Homo sapiens: one gene and its partners. The protein of the gene in region 1 purifies or fractionates together with the protein of each later gene. This does not show direct contact. Each region holds a gene or a part of one and is shown in the gene's direction. Other genes may lie near its edges. The genes, in order: IFT172, IFT74 and KATNIP.

Region 1 (3,654 bases):
CTCACACCAGTAATCCCAGCACGCTGGGAGGCTGAGGCAGGTGGATCACATGAGGTCAGGAGTTCAAGACCAGCCTGGCCACATGGTGAAACCCCATCTCTACTAAAAATACAAAAAATTAGCCAGGAGTGGTGGCACACGCCTGTAATCCCAGCTACTCGGGAGGCTGAGGTGGGAGAATCGCTTGAGCCAAGGAAGCAGAGGTTGCAGTGAGCCCGAGATCACACAACTGCACTTCAGCCTCGGCAACAGAGTGAGACTCCATCTCAAGAAAAAGAACAGTTGCCTTGGAAAGGGTGTGTGCAAATAAGGAGCCCTGAAGCTTAAGCTTCTTTTAGTTTCCCAGTATTTCTGTTGGTATAGTAGTTAAAAGGCTTTTGGTCCTCATGGGCTGGCATCTTAGCCAGGCTGAGGAGAGCTTGCTGCTTTCTGATCCTCATATCTTTCTGGTGTCCCTCTCTGCTCTGCCTGTTTCCCCTAGAATGCTGTGGAGGAGGCCATGGGCATGTACCAGGAGCTACACCGTTGGGATGAGTGTATCGCTGTGGCTGAAGCCAAGGTACCTGTTTTATCTTCTCCACAGTTGTTCAGAATTTGGTTCTGCCAATTTCAAAAACCTCCTTTTGTCAAGGAGGCCATAGAAACCAGAACAGGGTTGGGGCTTGGACTTGATGTGGTGAGGAGTTAGGATACTGCTGACCCAGGAGGATTCCCCTTGTTATAGAGGGATTGGAGAAGCATGGGAGGCAGAAGGGTAGGAAGGGGGATGTGACTCCTAGTTGTCCTCTGTGCATGTCCAGGGGCACCCAGCCCTGGAGAAGCTACGTCGTAGTTACTACCAGTGGCTGATGGACACACAGCAAGAGGAGCGAGCAGGTGAACTACAGGAGAGCCAAGGGGATGGGCTAGCAGCCATCAGCCTCTACCTCAAAGCTGGGCTCCCTGCCAAAGCTGCTCGGCTGGTGCTGACCCGAGAGGAACTGCTAGCCAACACAGAGCTGGTAGAACACATCACTGCAGCCCTTATCAAGGGGGAACTCTACGAAAGGGTATGCTGGCTTCCTTTTCCTAGCCCTTATCTCCAGAGCTCAGGACCCTTCCCTTACCCAGAGGAGTCTTGGGGTGCAGAGCGCTTCCTGACTGCTGGTGTTCCCTTGTTTTCGGAGCTAATACTTAGTTCTTTGTGTTGTAGGGGTATCATAGTAATGTGGTATGTGTTAACAGGCAGGTGATCTCTTTGAGAAGATTCACAATCCACAGAAGGCCCTGGAGTGCTACCGTAAAGGCAACGCATTCATGAAAGGTACTAGCCACCTATAAGCCATCCTTTACTGTTGTGGACTCTTGCCCATCTGGTTCCCTGGCACCTCTTGTAGGGGTGGGTTGCCCCTACACACCTGTGGGTGTTTCTCGTAAGGTGGGACGAGAGATTTGGAAAAGAAAAAGACACAGAGACAAAGTATAGAGAAAGAAATAAGGGGACCCGGGGAACCAGCGTTCAGCATATGGAGGATCCCGCCAGCCTCTGAGTTCCCTTAGTATTTATTGATCATCTGTGGGTGTTTCTCAAAGAGGGGGATGTGTCAGGGTCACAAGACAATTGTGGGGAGAGGGTCAGCAGACAAACACGTGAACAAAGGTCTTTGCATCATAGACAATGTAAAGGATTAAGTGCTGTGCTTTTAGATATGCATACACATAAACATCTCAATGCTTTACAAAGCAGTATTGCTGCCCGCAGGTCCCACCTCCAGCCCTAAGGCGGTTTTTCCCTATCTCAGTAGATGGAGCATACAATCGGGTTTTATACCGAGACATTCCATTGCCCAGGGACGGGCAGGAGACAGATGCCTTCCTCTTGTCTCAACTGCAAGAGGCATTCCTTCCTCTTTTACTAATCCTCCTCAGCACAGACCCTTTACGGGTGTCGGGCTGGGGGACGGTCAGGTCTTTCCCTTCCCACGAGGCCATATTTCAGACTATCACATGGGGAGAAACCTTGGACAATACCTGGCTTTCCTAGGCAGAGGTACCTGCGGCCTTCCGCAGTTTTTGTGTCCCTGGGTACTTGAGATTAGGGAGTGGTGATGACTCTTAAGGAGCATGCTGCCTTCAAGCATCTGTTTAACAAAGCACATCTTGCACCGCCCTTAATCCATTCAACTCTGAGTGGACACAGCACATGTTTCAGAGAGCACGGGGTTGGGGGTAAGGTTATAGATTAACAGAATCTCAAGGCAGAAGAATTTTTCTTAGTACATAACAAAATGGAGTCTCCTATGTCTACTTCTTTCTACACAGACACAGTAACAATCTGATCTCTCTTGCTTTTCCCCACACCTCTTGGTGCGTGTGTTCAGGATGCCTGGCTCCAGTCCTCCATTCCTCCCCTTCTTACCTATTCTCCATGCTTCATCTCCCTGTCCTACCTTTTTCCTGAGGCCCATCCCTGGAAATCTGGGCTGAGCATCTTTTCTCTCCCTGGCAGCGGTAGAGCTGGCTCGATTGGCCTTCCCAGTGGAGGTGGTGAAACTAGAGGAGGCATGGGGGGACCACCTGGTGCAGCAGAAGCAGCTTGATGCAGCCATTAATCACTACATCGAAGCCAGGTATGGGAGTATGGGAATGTAAAGGAGATTTAGGTGTGAAGTGAGGGGCAGTGGAGCAAGTAAGGACACCAAGGCCTTAAAGAAGAGATCTCAAAATGTAGGTTGAAGTGTGCTTAAAGGGTCCTTTTACCTCCATTCATCTTCATCTTTCATCCTACATATTTATATCTTTCCCAACTTTGCCAGGTGCTCCATTAAGGCAATTGAGGCCGCCCTGGGTGCCCGCCAGTGGAAGAAGGCAATTTATATATTAGATCTACAGGACCGGAACACTGCATCCAAATACTATCCTCTCGTGGCCCAACACTATGCATCCCTGCAGGAGTATGAGGTGAGGAAGAGTCCCTTTCCGCAGCACGAGGCAATGCAGTAGAGGATAACAATGAGAGAACCCAAAGCAGGAAGTGGAGGCAAGTTCACCAGATCCTTCTTTCTGGGCTCCAAACAGCATCATCACCTTGAAGGGGAAGAGAACAGTTTACTTTCCCATTTTCATTCCAGTGTGACACAGATATCGCCCTTCACCCCAGATATATAAAGTGAGTCTCTAGCTGTGTTCCAGTCAGCGTGATTCTTCATGAATAATGCTAACATAGTTATGATATAAAATTGCTTTGCATTGCAGAAATGTGAGGCCCTTTTGGATTCCACTGTTTGGGGCTGGTCTTTCTTTTTAAATGGTAGAATGTATGAGACACCCATACTCATCTTTTCTTCTCTATTATTACAAGGTTGTATCGCAGGCTCTCCACCATCCCAGCCAAGGTTTGTTCTTTCCTCATTCAAGCTGCTTTAAGTCTGTTGCTCTGACCTTTTGTATCTACCTCCCATCAACTACAGATTGCTGAGGAGCTCTATACTAAGGGAGATCGGACAAAAGATGCCATAGACATGTACACCCAGGCTGGTCGTTGGGAACAAGCCCACAAGGTAGGGATGGGTGGAGTTCATGATAAGAGAACTCTGCCTTAGTGGCATTGTGGCCTCATTCCTTGATACCTGTTTCTCCTCTTCGCTTGGCTCCCTGAAAGCTGACAAAGAGTAC
Region 2 (3,654 bases), on another chromosome or scaffold:
TCTACAGGCTAAAAACAGTTCCTATTTCGAGCATTAAAATAGCATAAGCCTTAGTCACTTGTTCAGCTCTTTGATTCTCATAACTATTTCTAACCGTGGTAGAGATAAGAATCCAACAAAACAAAACTCTTTGCAACAACATTTAAGTTTTGCTATATACATATTTGTATTTACGTGTACATACACATATATATTTTTAAATAGTGTATGTCGCTGTGGTTGACTTTTAAAACTCTTAAAGGGATAAAAGGAAACATTCAAGAAATACTGGCTTAATTATACTAACTTTAAAAATTTTGGTTGGATAACAGCCTGTTTTCTCAAATCAGTGACTTTCGAAGCATTGTTTTTTACTCTTCAAATTCATTCATATTCATTTACTATTCAGTATGCTGAACTTGTTACTGGCTCAAAGGTACTAGACTTTCTTACCTCTAGACTTTGCACATGCTGATTGTTTTTGCTGGAACACTTTTACCTTCCTCTTTGTGTGATATTCATAAACCTTAAGCCTTTAATTGAAAGGCATATCTTTAGAGAGCTCTCTTCATCCCTGCTACATGCTTTTATGGCACCCTGTGCTACTCTTTTCATATTTATCCAGTTTATTGTAAATACTTATTTAATTGCCTGCTTCTACCTCTAAAATACAGCTCCCTGAGTGAAAACCATGTCTCTGTTGATTGCTATTATATCCTCAGCACCTGGCACATAGTAGATGCTTGATATTTTTGAATGGAAGAATGAGACACACACAGGTATCCTCATTATTCATATATTTCATATTGTGAATTTGCCCTCTCACTAAAGTTACTTTGTACCCCCCAAATCAATCCTTGCAGCATTTTCATGATCATTTGTGGGCATGTGCAGACTCGTGAAAAATTTCAACAGCCTGACATGCACATTGCCAACAGAAGTTGAAAAAGGCAACACTCTGCCTTCTTATGTCAGTTCTCATACTATAAAGAGGTTTCCTTTTTGCAGTATATTTAGTGGCATGTTTTTTGCATTTTTGTGCTTTCTGTTGGTGATCATGCCATTTAAAATGGCCCCAAGCAAAGTGCTGATGTGCTAAGTGTTCCTAAGGCACATCATAGCCTTATGGAGAAAATGTGTGATAGGTAAACTTAATTCAGGCATAAGTTACAGTGCTGTTGGCTGTGAGTTCAATGTTAGTGAATCTACAACCTATAGTAAATAAAATGTCTTTAAACAAACATAAAGCAAGATTATGTATTGGCTAATTGACTAAAATGTGACTAAAGGCTCACAGGAACTTAACTCTGTATTTCCTTTGGGAGCAATAGTTCAATATTTGCTAACTCATTGTTCACAATAACTTCATAGGACATAACTACCACAGATAGTAAGAGTTGATTATGTGTGCAATTATAAAATTGTGCTCAAATATATATATAATGTTTTATAACTTGGTTTTTTCCCTACATAACTGTGTCATGCTTCTGTTAAAAATAATGTGTCTTTATCTCATAATATAGATTATATTACTAAGCAAGAAAAAAACTTAAATGTTTGTTAGCATGGAGACAGCTGTGGCTAATAGACATCAGGTTACCTTGATTCCCTAATATATTGGTTACCTGAAATTGGTTATTGAGGGGATGAGTATTTTTTTTTCTTAGTTTATATTATCTCACTGGTTACAGTGAACATATATTTCTTTTACAGATATTCTTAAAAAACATGATTTTTAATAGTTGCATTACATTTCCTTATGTGAAAGGAATAAAATTTTGATTAATTATCACCTTAAATTCTTATGTTTCAGACATTCAACGTCTGCAGTTGGATCTGCAGAAAATGGAGCTTCTAGAAAGTAAGATGACTGAAGAACAGCATTCTCTAAAAAGCAAAATTAAGCAAATGACAACTGATCTGGAGATATATAATGATTTGCCAGCTTTAAAATCATCAGGTGAAGAAAAGATAAAGGTAAATGTTAACCAAGTCTTACAGAATTACAATTCAGATTGTTTTTTTCTTGATCAAATGTAATATATTTGTGGTTTATAGGATTTATTATTTTAAGTTGATTATTTTATATATATAAGTGAGAAAAAATAAAAATGTTTACATATGTAGTTGGAATTTAGAGTGACTTAAAGTTTTAAAGAAAAGCAAAAATTGAAAAGCAAGGTATAAGCTGCTACTTAATACAGAGCATTTCAGCAGATGTGAGCTTTGTTAAATGCAGTTTAGATTATGACTCTATCCTACCTGAAACTTGTCAGTGGCTTTCCATTGCCATTTACATTAATTTAGACTTAATTTGGTAGGGTCGGGAGAGATATGGCAGCATTAATAGAGTTATTAATACAGATAATGTTAACATAGCTTATAGTTCAAAGGATATTTTTACAAACGGGTTTTAGAGTAGTTATAGCCTTGATATAATTTTACCAGAATATAGTTATTGAAATTAAGTTAAATATGATTTATATTGGCTTACTACATATTTTCTATAACCTGTCACTTCTATTTGGATCTTTCTAGAAATTACATCAGGAGAGAATGATATTATCAACCCACAGAAATGCCTTTAAGAAAATAATGGAGAAGCAAAACATAGAGTATGAGGCACTAAAAACACAATTGCAAGAAAATGAGACACATTCTCAGGTAAAAAATGTTTTAAATGACTTTGAAATTGTCTTAGTCTATATTTTCACCCCAAAACAATCAATTTTTTATTTTAAAATTTGCTTTATATACCTTCTAGATTTTCTGACTTTTAAGACAGCCAGATTCTGTACAGTCTTCATTCAGAATGAATGGACTCCTGCTTTCTTACCTTCCATAAACCTATATTGAAAGCCAACTCTGTTAGATACTGTCTTGGGCACAACTGTTAAGATATATGGGGTAGTATATTTTAAAAATTTTGGAAGTGAAACATTACTAATACAGAAACTAAAAATCCATAAAATCACAAATAAAATAAATTCTAATGATTAGTACCCCACCACCCAGAAGAGAGAATGCTTATTGTTGCTTTAGTGTGGGTTCTTTTAGTCAATGGATAGATAGATAGATAGATAGATAGATAGATAGATAGATAGATAGATATGTGTATACACATATTTATGCATATACTTAGGTACACATTTATTTCTATGCATTTATAGAAATTGTGCCATATTGTACATATCATTTAGGAGCTTGTTTTTCATGATTAACTATACATCATAAGTACTTTCCCTTGTCAATATATATATTGACTTTTAAAAAATATTAATAGCTTAATGATATTCTAGTGCATGGATGTCGCATAATATATTGAACCAATTCCCTTTCGTTGGATATTTAGGTAATTTCTAGTTTTAAAACCATTGAAATAATGCTATAAAGAGCAATCCAGGTATCCTTGAACTTCTTAATTCATATCTCCAATTATTTACATAGGATGCGTAGATATATATACCTGCAGCCCCCTTTTCATATCACTCATCTTGCTGATAATTACTTGAACAGTGTGTGAGGTCTAGATTGAGAGCTCTGACGGGACAGAGACAATGTCTGTCTCGTTTACTTTATTCCTTGCCCTGTGGTATTGGTTGGCACATAGTAGGTACTCAGCAATTATTTGTTGAATGATTGAATGAAGCATTATGTGTCATGTACAAAGTCAAT
Region 3 (3,654 bases), on another chromosome or scaffold:
GGGCATTTAGGCTGGCAGTGAGAGAGGAGAGCGAGGTGGGGACCATTTGTGAAGGTTACTGTATGTCATGTGGAGAGCTTTGGAATTTATCCCATCATCGGCATGGTTCTGCACCCCGTCGTGTGAAGAAATCATCCGGAGAACTTGTTCTGAGTCCAGAAGTTACCTACAGGCTGCCTTGAGGCAGTGGTCCTCACACGGCATCCTCCTGGCTCCCTTCCAACTGCAGCTGCCGTGAACATGGGACAGTCCCCGCATGTGGACAGTGCCCTGCCTCAGGTGCTCGTGGGGTGCTCTGCCGTGGGAGCACACTCAGCTCGTGCATGTGTTGGGGCATCAGTGCCCTGAGGGCAGCCTTCAACAAGCAGTGGATAAATGTCCCAGTCTTGGAGAGACATTTGCGACATGCATTTAAGCAGAAGACTCCCATGATCTGATTTCAGTTAAAAAAAAAAAAACTCACTGCTGCATAGAAAATGAAGTGTGAGTGCAGGGATTTGGAGGAGACAACGCAGAGTGGAAGCAGAGAGACCAATTAGGAGGCGGCAGTGGTGTCTCTGGTAGAGACCCTGGTGGCCTGGGCAAGGAAGGCAGCAGCACATTCCAGGTAAAGAGGTCAGACCCAGGAAGTGTTCTGGAGAGAGAGGCGAGGGACAGCTGGCGGATTGGATGGGCAAGTGAGAAAGAGAGGGATCAAGGGGGCCACGAGGTTTTTGGCCACTGCTTCAATGATGGAGCCATTTTTAAGATAGGTGAAGACTAGGGTTGGGGAAAGTGAGATCTTGGAGTGCCGCAGAGGGCCCCCGTGGGAAGGAGCACCAGTTGGCCACAGCAGTGACCAGCTCAAAAAAACTGGGTTTTTCCTTTTTCCTGCCCTATCTTGCTTTCCCCATTTCCTCTTGGAATCACCTGCCAAATACTCGACTTGCACCCGAGTCCTTGTCTCAGCCTCTGCTTTTACGGTCTCCCAATTATGATGCCCACGGAGGCCAGGAAAGCTGTTTTATAAGCACTCCAGGCTTTTCGACGCAGATGGTCTCAGGAACTGGACTTTAAAGAACACTGCTATAGGCTGTGAAAAAACATGAAGGATTTCACACAGGGGAATGACTGGACAGATTTGCTCTGGTAGGAAATGAACTCTGGTGGCAATGTGAAGTCCAAGTTAAAGTAGCAAGAGACAGGAAGCAGGGAGACCCATTAGTAGGCTATTACGAATGTCCCGACAGGAGGTAATGATGACGAAGGCAGCGATTGAGGCCGTCTCTTTGTGAAAGTCCTTTGATTTATAGAGTATGTAGCGGTTCCCACAGAAATGAGACCAAGCCTAGTTTCACACCCCCAGCACTGTGGTTTTCAAAAGCTTGCATTTCTAGCATTTCACATTTTCTTTTCTTTTTTTGGTATCTTCGACTTCCAAAATTTCATACATCAGTCTGATGCTATGCATCTTCACTTTGTTAAATCTTATGGTTTCAGGATCTTGACATTGGTGCCAAGAACGTGAAGCTTTACGTCAACAGAAACCTCATCTTCAATGGCAAGTTAGACAAAGGAGATAGGGAGGCCCCAGCTGACCACAGCATCCTGGTTGACCAGAAGAACGAGAAGAGCGAGCAACTAGAGGAGGCCATGAACGCTCACTCGGAAGAAAGCAAAGGCACCCATGAGATGGCTGGTGCCAGCGGGGACAAGGAGCTTGGTCTCGGTTGCTCACCGCCAGCTGAAACATTAGCGGATGCAAAGCTTTCTTCACAAGGAAATGTGTCTGGCAAAAGAAAGAATTCTACTAATTGCAGGAAAGACAGTTTGTCCCAGTTAGAGGAATATTTGAGACTGTCGGCAGTCCCCACTTCGATGGGTGACATGCCCAGTGCTCCTGCCACTTCCCCACCTGTGAAGTGCCCTCCTGTCCATGAGGAGCCCTCTCTCATCCAACAACTGGAAAACCTCATGGGCAGAAAAATCTGTGAGCCACCCGGGAAAACCCCATCCTGGTTACAACCTTCTCCCACCGGCAAGGACAGGAAGCAGGGAGGCAGGAAGCCAAAACCCCTCTGGCTTAGTCCCGAGAAGCCCCTGGCCTGGAAGGGCAGGCTCCCATCAGACGATGTCATCGGTGAGGGTCCTGGAGAGACCGAGGCCAGGGATAAAGGCCTACGGCATGAGCCAGGGTGGGGGACCAGCCGGAGTGTCAACACCAAGGAGAGACCCCAGAGGGCAACCACCAAAGTCCACAGTGATGACTCAGACATCTTTAACCAGCCCCCCAACAGAGAGCGCCCTGCTAGTGGGAGGAGGGGCTCAAGGAAGGATGCTGGCAGCAGTAGTCATGGGGACGACCAGCCAGCCAGCAGAGGTAAGCTCCAAAGAGCAGCCCGACTTGGGCATCATCATCCCAGCCCCTCTAATTGGCATGAAGCCAGTTAGCTCCTGGACCTCAGTTTCCTTATCTGCACAACAAGATGGTTGTTCTCAACTAAGGGTCACAAAATCACTGTCTCAGGGGCCAAAGAGATGCATACATGAGTGAAATGGGCAAGACACATTTTGCATGGTAAATTCATAGATGTATTTGTCATTGCCACCAAGGTATGTCCCTTTGCCCATTTTTCTTGCAACACATGGCTTTTCCAAGCCATTTTCCAAAAGACTTTGTTCTCCTGCCTTTCATAGAGACATCGGTCTCTAGTCACTTCACTTTATCCTTAACTGTACTGTTAGAAAAATAGCTGGGTACAGTGGCCAGGCCTGTAATCCCAGCACTTTGGGAGGCTTAGGTAGGAGGATCGCTTGAGCCAAGGAGGTCGAGGCTACGGTGAGCCATGATTGCGCCACTGCACTCCAGCCTGGGTGACACAGCGAGACTCTGTCTCAAAGAAAAAAAAGAAAAAATAATAACACAAGTGTGATGATGCATAGCAATTGACACTTGCCTGAGTGTTGGAAGTGGCACAGGGAATAGTGAGGACTTTGGCAATTTGGAGACCATAAGCCCACCCACAGGGCGGCTGCCACTCCACTCAGGTTTCTAATAAGCATTTAGGAGTGCAAGGCCAGGCCGGGCGCAATGGCTCACACCTGTAATCCCAGCACTTTGGGAGGCCGAGGCGGGCAGATAACCTGAGGCCAGGAGTTCGAGACCAGCCTGGCCAACATGGTAAAACCCTGACTCTACTAAAAATACAAAAATTAGCCAGGCATGTGGTGCGTTCCTGTAATCCCAGCTACTTGGGAGGCTGAGGCAGGAGGATCACTTGAACCTAGGAGGTGGAGGCTACAGTGATCCGAAATTGTGCCACTGCACTCCAGCCTGGGCAAGAGAGTGAGACTCCGTCTCAAAAAAAAATAATGAATGCAAGGCCACTGTACCAGACCTCCTCTTTACTTTTTTCAAGAGAAACCAGAAATGTTTCTTATTTTTTGACTTTGGCAACTGATTGAGATTATTTTTAAACTACTGTATATGTCAAAAAAAAAAAAAAAAGGCACATCTGCTGGCAGGACTCACCCTGAGAGCTTTGTGAACTTTGCAGTAGATGATTAGATGGTCTTCAAGGGCATTCCTGATTATGAAAGGAGAGCCCATCAAGGCAGGGAGTCTCAATATTTGCACTCAGACTTGGCTCCTGGAGAGTACGGATAGCAGCTAGG

Evidence for each region.
Region 2: the proteins of IFT172 (region 1) and IFT74 purify together in Homo sapiens (affinity purification with mass spectrometry; one large-scale study listed by BioGRID and IntAct). This does not show direct contact.
Region 3: the proteins of IFT172 (region 1) and KATNIP purify together in Homo sapiens (tandem affinity purification; one large-scale study listed by IntAct). This does not show direct contact.

What each region holds. Positions count from the first base shown.
Region 1 is NC_000002.12:27,458,664-27,462,317, reverse strand, and holds part of IFT172 (intraflagellar transport protein 172 homolog), read left to right. Parts: intron 1-481; coding exon 482-559; intron 560-800; coding exon 801-1,049; intron 1,050-1,224; coding exon 1,225-1,303; intron 1,304-2,488; coding exon 2,489-2,609; intron 2,610-2,795; coding exon 2,796-2,940; intron 2,941-3,449; coding exon 3,450-3,539; intron 3,540-3,654. UniProt on the Homo sapiens protein: Required for the maintenance and formation of cilia. Plays an indirect role in hedgehog (Hh) signaling, cilia being required for all activity of the hedgehog pathway.
Region 2 is NC_000009.12:27,053,817-27,057,470, forward strand, and holds part of IFT74 (intraflagellar transport protein 74 homolog), read left to right. Parts: intron 1-1,792; coding exon 1,793-1,956; intron 1,957-2,517; coding exon 2,518-2,643; intron 2,644-3,654. UniProt on the Homo sapiens protein: Component of the intraflagellar transport (IFT) complex B: together with IFT81, forms a tubulin-binding module that specifically mediates transport of tubulin within the cilium. Binds beta-tubulin via its basic region. Required for ciliogenesis.
Region 3 is NC_000016.10:27,738,562-27,742,215, forward strand, and holds part of KATNIP (katanin-interacting protein), read left to right. Parts: intron 1-1,479; coding exon 1,480-2,359; intron 2,360-3,654. UniProt on the Homo sapiens protein: May influence the stability of microtubules (MT), possibly through interaction with the MT-severing katanin complex.